Linked DNA regions of Homo sapiens: region 2 is linked to region 1. Evidence: fine-mapped expression QTL. A gene starts in region 1. The other region holds a variant in brackets. All regions are shown on one strand. Distances are from middle to middle.

Evidence for each region. PIP is the estimated chance that this variant, and not a neighbour inherited with it, causes the effect.
Region 2: its variant is the best candidate, but not a certain one, in a credible set for the expression of LIPT1 in whole blood (TOPMed, PIP 0.59).

What each region holds. Positions count from the first base shown.
Region 1 is chr2:99,151,947-99,157,322 of GRCh38, forward strand. It overlaps LIPT1 (lipoyltransferase 1), which reads left to right and starts at 3,021. Exons shown (of 2, transcript NM_145199.3): 1 at 3,021-3,105. TSGA10 (testis specific 10) reads right to left here and starts at 2,996. Exons shown (of 21, transcript NM_025244.4): 1 at 2,747-2,996. RefSeq lists enhancers at 2,628-3,249, 2,639-2,838, 2,899-3,128, 3,159-3,358, 3,439-3,518 and 1 more.
Region 2 is chr2:98,912,397-98,917,772 of GRCh38, forward strand. The region is part of intron 1 of CRACDL (CRACD like); the gene reads right to left. Among named protein-coding and RNA genes, the nearest start is that of CRACDL, 21 kb to the right of the region's middle. RefSeq lists an enhancer at 178-761 and a silencer at 4,730-5,024. The variant C/A (reference allele first, on the strand shown) is at 2,198.

The sequences.
Region 1 (5,376 bases):
AAAAATACTAAACAAATGTGTTTGTAGGGAATATTGAGAGTGAAAAACAATTGTTGAATGGGACATAAGCCAAAAAGACAATGCTTTTTATTATTTACAGAACGTAATTCTTTAGAAGAGAAAAAAAATACATAAATCATTCATTTGTTCACCTAGCCTGGCACTGTGCTTGGTGCTGGAGATACAGTAGTGAATAAAATAGCCAGTGCCTTGTAGAGTTTTGTGCCTGTCTACTAGGAAAGACAGGAGATTATACAGTAATTATATAAGATGCAAATTGTGATATGCCATGAAGAAACGTATAGCATTCAGAGGGACATAACACAACACAAGACATACCACATAAAACTGATTTTTTTTAAGATGGTCTCACTCTGTTGCCCAGGCTGGAGTGCAGTGGAGCGATCATAGCTCAGTGCAGTGTCGAATTCCTGTTCTTAAGCGATCTTCCTGCCTCAGCCTCCTAGTAGCTAGGATTACAGGCATGTGCCACCATACCCAGCATGTTTTTGTATTTTTTTAGAGACAGAGTCTTACAATGTTACCCAGACTGGTCTCAAACTCCTGGCCTCAGGTGATCCTCCCACTGGGCCATAAACTTGATTTTAACGTGGGAAATGGGAAAGCGTATCTCAGGACATTTTTGAAAGCAAGTTGATTAAGAAAGTAAAGAAACAGAATGGCTACTCCATAGAGCAGCCTCTGAGGACATTTATAGCTTTTGCAGTGACATGGTTGTCTAAGTGAATGATGGTGATGGTCATAAAAGTGGAGAGAAGGGGATAGAGTCCAGGTGAAGTCTGACAGGATGTAGTCATGGTTTGGAAGCGGAAAGTGAGGAAGAAGAAAGGGCTTCTGGCAAAAAAGGCTTTAGCCTTTATGCATGCAGGATCCCTGGGGGGAAAGAGTGAGTTCAGGAGCATGGCTTTTAGACTTACCAGGTTTACAAGGCAGTTGTATCTATGGAACTAAAAAATATAAATTTTGAAGTTGTATACAGAAATGGTACTTAGAGCCATAGAATGAATGAAATTGCTTAAGGAAAATGTAGTGTGAGATAAAGATCTGAGGAACTCCAACATTTAGGGCTGACTAGATCAGGGTAGCTGGCAAAGGGGACTGCGGAGTTGGCAGTGAGGCTGGAGGAAAACCTGGCAAAAGGGACTGAGGAGTTGACAGGGTAATGTCAAAGTTGTCCACAGGAATCTCCAGGTTGAGGTAGTCAAATGAACACTTAGATGAATACTGAAAAGTCCAGTGGATCTAGCAATATGAATGTCACCCGTGACCTTAGCAAAAGCACTTTTGCTGGAATAATGGGGAAAAGCCATTTTGGAGTACGTTGAAACAATGAATGGGAAGTGAGAAAGTAGATACTGGATGTATAGCAGTTTTTCCAAGAAGCTTGGCTCAGAAGGGTAGCAGACAGGATGACAAGTGGAAAGAGAAATGAGGTCACTGGAGGATTGTTAAAGAGTACAGCATGTTTGAGTGTCACTTGAAAGGTTCCAGTGGAGAAGCTGAAGAAGTAGGTAAAGGTAAGAATAACCAAGGGACAGAAGTCCTGGAGCAGGGAGGAGGGAATGGGATTCTTTAAAACCTCTTCATCAAGAAACTAGGAAAAAAAACCAAAGTTGTACCATCTCAGATTTCAGAGAAAGGGAATTTAGAAGGAAGTAATATAAGCAAAGAGCAACAATATTCTGTGACTGTTTTTAATAATAACTAGGAAAATTCCTAGTGCAGTTAACTCTGAACAAAATTCATTCCCACCTGCATAATACAAGATAGACTTACTCAGAGTGACCTTGGTAAAAGGTGTGATAATAAAGAAAGGAGGTGTCATTATGTCTTCATTGTAGCTTTATATGAAGCCCTGGTCATTTACCGTATCAGCATCAGCAAACTGAACACTGAATGATTCTTACTCCAAGAGGCAAGTCTTAGTGGTTTCTATTTTAACTGAAGGAGAGATTAATTTCTGTGCAAGGTTGAAAAAGGTGACCACAAATTCTTTGGGCTTCTTTCATCAAGAGGTGAAGTCCATTACCCCACGCCTTAACTCTGGGCTGGCTTTGTTGTTGTTTTGGCCAATAGAATATGGCTGAGGCGCTGCTTCCAAGATTAGGCCTGAATTGAGATGCCCTAGCAGCCAGGCAGCACCTGCCAGAGCATGAATAAGGCTATCTTGGACCGCCCAGCGTAGCCAACCTGTGCTGAATGAAGCCACATGAATATGCCCAGGAGAAACTAGCAGAAGAATCACCCACCTTGCCCACGTTAGAGATATAAACCACTATTTGAGGCAGTTTGTTATGCAGCAAAACTTAGCCGAAACTATTACCTTGCTACCTTGACTGCTGGTGTAATTTCCCATCTCATGGAGTCACAGAGTTTTCTTGCCAACTGCAGTGAGTTGGCAAATGGGAATGATCAGTAGCCTCAGTGTGTTTTCTGATCCACTCCATCCTGTATTATCATCTGCGAATACCGTTTTTCCTTTAAATGCAATGTGTCTTTCAAAGCTGACTTGAATTTCTCACCTTTCGAGTTACCTGCCATTTGGACTCACTTATTTGGAGGAGATATGTAAAGACCCAGCGTAATACCTGTATGCTCAATAAAAAGTATTTGCTGGTACTCCTTCCTGCCCGTCGTGTGACCTGACTGCTCTGGGCTTCTGGGGGCTCCCCCTAAACTCGCTCCACGAAATGACCCCTCCAACCTGGCACGCCCGCTCTCCTACCTTCGCCCAGGGCTGGCCGTTATCTCTGTGCTGTCACGCGGGGAAGTCCCATCTGAACTGGGGCCTTATGACCTTCGGTACTTTTATTCGAACGTAGCCTGCGTCCCTGCCTGGAACCTGGTTCCCGCCCTGAAGGACCCTTACTTAGCACTCCTGCGGGCTGCCGGGACCCCACGGCTCCGCAGGCGGAGAGACTAGGCGCGATCCCTGCGCGCCCCTCCTTCTCTTGCGCTTCAGGGGGCCGGCCCTCAGGGGGCGGGGCAGCATCGCGCGCAAGGCCTGCCGGTTGCTCGGGGTCGTATGACGCACTTTTCCAGCTCGAGCCCTCACGAGGCCGTGGGTACGACCGGAAGCCGCAGGTGGGTGAAGCGGAAACGCTTCAAACCGGGATGTTGCGGGCCGTAGCGCGTGGGCGGCCGTGGGGTCTTGGGCGCGCGCGGTGTTTCTGGCGGTGGGTCAGGACTTGCGGGTCGCCTCCGCCGGTGTTGAAGCCTCTTGTGTGCACACTTTCTCCTCAGCACTTGGGACGACCTAATTTCACTGTTAGGAACGGTTGATCCCGAACACAGGAGGGAGGGTAAATATCGTAAAACATGTTGGACGCTAGCTGTGTGCACGCCCCCTGGGAGCCAAAAGGGCGAAGTAAAACATGCACACGACCGTAATGAGATTCTGAGTAAGTTGTATATCATTAGAGAGGGGACAAAATAATAGGGTCTTGGCGAGGTCTTATGAAGAAGCTGCGCCTGCCTAGAAAGATAGATGGGATTGTGCTGTTTTCGCTTTCAGTTCAGTGATGGGGAGCCGTGTTTGGCAGTGCAGAGGTAGCGAAGTGTCCCAAGAACATGGAAGGTAAGGAAGTCTTCCGAGGAAAAACTTCAAAAAATTAGTCATTAAAGGGTGAGAGTAGAAAGATTCAAAGTGATTTTGAAGGAACAAAATTTAACCAGAACTTCAAAGGCTTGACACTATCCCAACGACTGTGAAATATCCTGAAATACCGTGCATTACTCAGTCGGGGTCTGATCCGCTACTGGAGCATAGAATAAAAAAAGAGGGGCACACCTGTGCCAGATGAATCCACGCCTTCTCTAGGGGAGAGAGGGTATCCCGGCTTAAGAGCAGGGGCTCTCCTGAGTTAAGGAAGTGTCTTCCCCAGAGCCCATTCCGTCAGACGTTCATATCATGTAACTCAGTCCTTTTCTGATTATGTATTCACCAAGCAAACTTAAGAGTTGGCTTGTCACCAGACCTACAGTGAATAATTGCACAGGCTCATCTGAATATCTGATAGATGGTCTATAGTTCTCTTTGTAAATCAATAAGCTGGCAGTCAGGGATTTTTGGACATCCCTTTGTTTTCACTTTTTCTCACTCTGTGTGATTTTTTCTTATCTTTCGGGGTTCAACTGAAATGTCACATCCTCACTGAGGTCTGTTTATTGGTTTACGTGTTCAGGTGCTTAGAACAGCTTCTTGCATCTTTTCTCACATGATGCCTTTTTAATGAGGCTTAGCCTAACAACCCTATTTAAAATTGCAATGTAAGTTTTCTCACATACACAGTTACAATCCTCCCTTTATCAGCTCTACATTTTTTTTTAATAGACTGAATCTCGCTCTGTTGCCCAGCCCATCTCGGCCCACTGAAACCTCCACCTCCCGGGTTCAAGCGATTCTCCTGCCTCAGCCTCCCGAGTAGCTGAGATTACAGGCGCCTGCCACCACGCCCAGGTAATTTTTGTATTTTTGGTAGAGACGGGGTTTCACCATGTTGGCCAGGCTGGTCTCAAACTCCTGACCTCAGGTGATCTGTCCACCTTGGCCTCCCAAAGTGCTGGGATTACAGGTGTGAACCACCTCGCCCGGCCATCTACTTTTTTTAATAGCCCTCCTTATCACCTTTATTCATTTGACTCACTGATGATTCCCAAGTGCTAAGAACAATGTCTGTCATGTAATTGATGAAAACTTTGTTGAATTAATACCTTTGTTGTGTTTTATTCACACTGTATATACAATACCTGGATGAAGAGAGATATTTTTAGCACTATTAAAATACATGCATTGGCTCAATACATGAATTGGATCAATTCTGGAACCCTAACAAGATCACATTTTTGACCAAAGTCAATATCTTGGACTATAGTTAATTTATCAAGGTAAATGCCACTTTGATGTGTCTTGGTTAGGAATCTTTGTTCACTTGAGGGAATACATGGTATATGATAGGAACAGTAAGCACAGAATAGAGATGGGAAAGGGAGAACCCTGTCATAACAGTTAACATTTCATATTTGCCAAACATGAATGGCTTATGCATATTAACACATTTAATTCTCTCAACCATTTTATGACGTCTGAGGCCACTGAAGCAGCTAGAGGTTAAACCACTTCCCTAAAGTCATTAGTAAGTGGCAGAGCCAGGATTAAAAATTTAAGTCCTTAACTACTTTGCCATCCTGCCACACTCTGCACATGCAGACAAGAGTAAGAGCCTTAATCTTGGGAAAAGATATTTCACAAGATCTTTGACAATTTCCATATCCACAGACACCATCCAGCTTATTAGTGACCACCACTCCTATTTGTTACTTTCTCCTTTAAGGCTGCCCCTACCTGAACTCTGG
Region 2 (5,376 bases), 240 kb before region 1:
CCTGTCTGCCACTCGATCCCCAGGCATGACCTGGCCACACCCATGCAGGGTCCATGTTTGTCTCCGGCAGGCGGGGGTCACACCAGCTGCGGCTTTGCAAGGCCTGGTCCTTTGACCCTCTGCTCATCTATGATCGGGCTTGTGCTCAGCTCACAGCAGGCTTTCCCTGAATGCCCTGAGGTCTATGACAGCTCCTGAGAGCCGACCCCCACTGTGGTTGAGGGTGCTGACTCTCAGCCCCCGCCTGGCACAGCCTCCCCCTCCCCATTGCAGCCTTGCTGAAACGCAGCTGAGCTAATTCTGGGCTCCCTGCCACCCGCACAAGCCCACGCTGCACATGCTCTGACTCACGGCTGAGGCGTCCAGAAGCAGGGATGGGAAGGAAGGCTGCTGCCAGGCACCCACTTGGCATCAGTCAATGGCCAGGGGTCCGTCCTTGGGCCTGACGGTGGAATCCGGGGGTGGATCTGAGACCTCTATCCGCTTTCATCAAATCATACTGGCAGTAGCTAAGCCCACATTTTAAAGCCAGTGAATTTCTTGAGACATGCAGCCATATACTCATAGCACACAATCATGGAGTTAAAACCTGGAATTAAAAATTAAACCTGTTACTCTTTATCACTGAGACCTATTTCAGCATGTGGCAAATTCTTACACTACCGCCACATTTCCCAAACATAAAAACCATTTGATCAGAAAAGAAGGGAGATAATTTGCCTCCAGAAGTTCAATGCAATCTTATTTGAAAACCTTTTCCTGAAGACCTACTATGTGCTCTCCCTCTGAGTATGCCAGAACCTAAGGTGCCATCCCCACCCTTGAGAATCCTCAGTCTGTGCAGGAGGCAGACAGGCATGTCTGTAACCCACTTGTAAAGGAAGTGTGTGGAGTGCTGTCTAGAGGGAAGCCACATGAGAACGGTCACCTCTGTCGGGGGGTGGGAAGGGAAGAGAGCTGGCAAAGCTACTCAGGGTGGTCCGTGGGCAGTCAGCCAGCGGGGCAGGTCCCTGGGCAGAGAGGACACAGGTGTGAGGCCTGTGGTAGGGGAGTGCTTGGGGAACAGGGAGTACAAGACTGGAGCCTGTGGGGAGTGTGGGGAAGGGCTCAGACACAAGAAGCACTGTGGTCAGACTGGGAAGGACCCACGGGGCTGGCTGGGAGGAGATAGATTGGAGGGTGCAGGCAGAGGGCCAAGCCGATGGACTCACCCAGGAGTCCCTTAGTCACTCAGGACCACACCTCCCACCCAAAGGCAAGTCTGGGCATCTGAGGAGTCACGGAAAGCATGGTCTTCGGGAGCAGAAAGCCCTAGCAAATGTACATGGCTGTGCAAGTGACCTACACGCTCTGAGCCTCCCCAGTCGTTAGAATGAAGATTCAGGCAATCCTTTTCTTGCAGGGTTGTTTACAGGATGCAATCAGCTAAGCTATGTGAGAGCCCTGGCAAGGCACCTGGCCTGGGGCAGGTGATCCTGCAGCAACCCAGTAGGATGAGATGGGGAGAATATAAAGCCAGCTTCAGACCCAACTCCATGGTTTACGCTTTATGCGCAGCCCTAGGACCTGGGGAGGTCCTGAATGCATGGAAGCCTCGGCTGCCTCCCTCCCAGAATGGGCATTGTATGTGCCCTGTTGAAAGGCTAAGCAATCACCTCTGCAATGCAGGCTTTCAGCATCATCTGGCCAGTAAGAGGCTGGCTGCCTGCCCATGCCCCTCTCATGACTAGGAGCCAGGAAGCCGAGGCAGGAGCCAGGTAGGGGGAGGAGGCAGGAGCCCCAAGGACCCAGGTGACTGTGTTGGTGAAGCTCTTCACTTCAGAGGTAATTGTAATTGCAGACATGGGAAGGGGCCCTTGAGCAACTCGCAGGGTCCTGCTGGCCCAGCTCCCAGCCCCCCACAGCAAGGAGCACCACCTCCTCACAGGCCTGTTTCCTGGGCTGGACCCTACCCCCTCACTCCCTCCACCCTCCCCTCAAGGTTGGGGCCCAAGCCTGAGCCCACAGCATGAGGAGGAGCCCTGCAGTAGCTTCCAGCAGAGCCTGCAGCCCTCACCCAGACATCAGGTTACGGAAGTTGAGTCCTGTCCCCGCTGAGGTGGGGGGCTCTAAGATTACATGGCTGGATATGGGCCAGGACAGCTTACTGTTAGTTTCCATCCTCTTCAAGGGAGACTTTTTTAAAGACAGGAGCTTG[C/A]GCAGGGCACAGAGGAGCTCTGTCCCCTGCCCCCCACCAGCCTTCGCCTGCTTCTGGGGAGCCGGCTGGCGACCTCATGGAGCTTCACGCTGGCCCCACAACTGGGGCTCTCCTGCCAACAGACCCCTCCATCAGTGTCTCTGCTGAACGTGGGGACATGGACTGAGGCCTGAGGCTGGGCGGCTCCGGGCACAGGTCCACTAGCACTCCTCCAGAGGGAGTCCCTGGGCAGCCAGCCTCTCTTCCTCCTGTGCCCGGTTAGACAGCACCATCCCAGGACTCCAGGCCCCTGAGAGAGAAGAAGGGGAAGGCTGCTCCCAGAGCAGGGCCCAGCCCCAGGAGATGCTGTTTGCAGTTGGAGGGTGTCCAGTGGGCAAAGAGGTGCTGTCCAGAGTCCCCGGGTCTAGAAGACCCAGGGTCTTGGCACCAGCCTCTGTTCACAGTCACAGGTCCCTGCCAGTATGAGTGGTTTTGAGGGGGTTGGCAAAGGCTGCTCAAAGTAGAGAAATAATGAGGGGAGGAAGGTCGACCAGGACAGGACTGGGTCCAACTCATGCTTGGAGTGATAAGAGAAGGCAGAAAAGGACATCACGTGCCAGACCTGAGGAGACTCAGGCTCAGAGACAAGGGGGCACAGAGTGCTGGAGAGGTGCTGGCCACCTGCCCCTTTCTACACGGAACAGCACAGGCTAAGTCCTCCCTTTCAGCCCTGGAGGCAGTGCCAGGAGCTGACCGGAGCAGGTATCATAGCAGTTTCTTTTCTGAGTGTGTGGGAGGCACCTCCTGGAACCCTCAGAGATGAGTGGGGCAAGGCACAGGGCAGGGAGCAGGCCATGGGACCATAGGGACCAGGGATGCCCGGGGACTGGTGGAACATGACTTGCTGTGGAGCCCTGGAGGAGCTGCCTGGGTCTGTGCTAATCCAAGAGACAGGGAGACCTCATGAAAGTCACCTAGATCACAGAGGGACAGCCATCAGCTCTGCCAGGTGAAGGACGAGAGCCACAGAGTGATGGTAGGGGCTGCACTGGGCAGGCAAAGAGGGGACTGCTCTTCAGAGAGGGTGGGCTGCCTGCTGGGGGTGGGGGAAATAGCTGTGAGCCACACATAGGTGTAGGCAAGGGCATGAGTGACACGTGGAAGTTAGGCAACACCAACTTCGGACAAGACATCAAGCTTTCTCCAACTCTCCCACCGAGGCAAGGCACAAAGGCAATTACTAAGCACATCCGCTGACCACCACTAAACCTCCTGGCACCCAAATCAAAGCTCTGACCATGAGGACATGCTTTCTAGGCAGCTTGAGTGTTTCAAGGCATGGCCAAGCCTTGTGTTTGACGAATGACAGCCCAGGTGCCCACTGGGCTGGCCGGGCCATTGCCCTCAGGGTCACTGGGCCAGGCCTGAGGAACTGTCCCAAACTTACAGAGACAGACGGATGGCACAGATCCAAACTCCCAGGACCCTAGCCAATCTCTGGGCATGCTTACAAAAAGGGGAGACTTTCCTAATTATCAAGTGATTCATTGGATTAGAAAAACTGTACTATGCCCACACAATGTAATACTTCGTAGCAACAGAAAGGAAGAAACCACTGACACACACAACTACATGGATGAATCACAAAATAATCATGGGCTGGAAGAAGCCAAAAAGCGCACGATTCCATTTAAGCCAAATCCTAGGAAACAGTGTGAACTGAGTAATAGGGATAGAGAGTGGACCAGGGGTTGCCCTACAGGGGATCTGGGGAGGGATTATGGACGTGCATGAGGAATTTTGGGGAAGATGGGTACGTGCACTATCTTGATCATGGTGTTGGTTTCACAGGTATATACATATATCAAGATGTATGAAACTGTGCACTTTAAATGTGTGCAGATTATATGTCAATGATACCTCAATAAAGCTGTTTTTTTTAAAAAATGCTGATTATAAAAATATAGAAAGATATGAAATCTCCCATAATTCTATCACAGCTAACCAGAAATCTCATTTTTATATGTTTCCTTCCAGTCTTTTCCCTACTCCCACACATAAATATCATTTTTTTTAATGTAGGATACAACCTCTCTTTTTAAAAAGTTTTATTATCCTGAATTTTTTTTCTTCTTTTTAATTTTAAAAGTTCTATGCACCCTGGGAAGAGGAGGTGAAGACAGCAGCTCCCCAGAGAAGGGGTGAGAGGCCAGGAGAGGAGCGAGTCCCTGAGTGGGGGCATGGACACAGGGCAGAGCAGCTGCCTGTTGCCCTGAGCAAGAGCCTACCCGGGGTCAGCACCTGTCCTTCGGTATACTTCACCCAAACCATCTCCTTTGCTAAACTGAGCCTAAATGACAGTACTTTGCACCCAGTATCTGCTCAATCAGAATTTACTAAAGGGAATCTGAATGAAATGAAGCTGAGCCTGCCCTCCAACACATCCTGCACCTTCTGTCTCCTATCTTGGCACTGGCCCCTGCCTCTTCCCCATGGGCCTTCTTCTCCCTCCGGCTCGGCCCACTATCCTTCCTGCCTTCTTCATTTAGCCTTAGATCATGAAGTTCCCTCATTCCCTTGTGACTAAGCATCCTTTAGAAATGTTCCTAAGGGCCTCACTGCACTCCGGCAGACGAATGACTCATTCCCCATCATTGGATGTTCAAATTCCTTCCAAATCTGCACCTTTATATGTAACATTGTGATGAACATCCTTGCATAGGAATTTTGGACTGCAGATTTAATTGTTTCCTTGGGATAAATTCCTAGAAATGGAATCCCCAGGATAAAGGGAGGAATTCTTTTAAAGGGTTTGAGACATCCTGCCAAACTGCTTGGCAGAAAGCTTGCAGCTTCCTCTCCCAAGGCATATGAGAGTCCTTGCCAAACACTTTCACATGCATTGAGTACCATCGTTCACAAAAACAAACAAACAAAAGCAAAGCACACCACAAATTTGTCAATTTAATAGCAAAAAATAGTATCTTACTTTAATAGGCACCTACTTGATTAATGTAAGATTGACTTTCTCACACTTACTGACATTTATTTCTCCTTTTACGAGCAAATTCCTTTTTAAAAATGTGTATACATTTAAAGGGTACAAGCACAATTTTGTTACATGGATATATTGTGTAGTGAAGTCTGGGCTTTTAGTGTAACCATCACCCAAACATTGTACCCAGTAGGTAGTTGCTCAT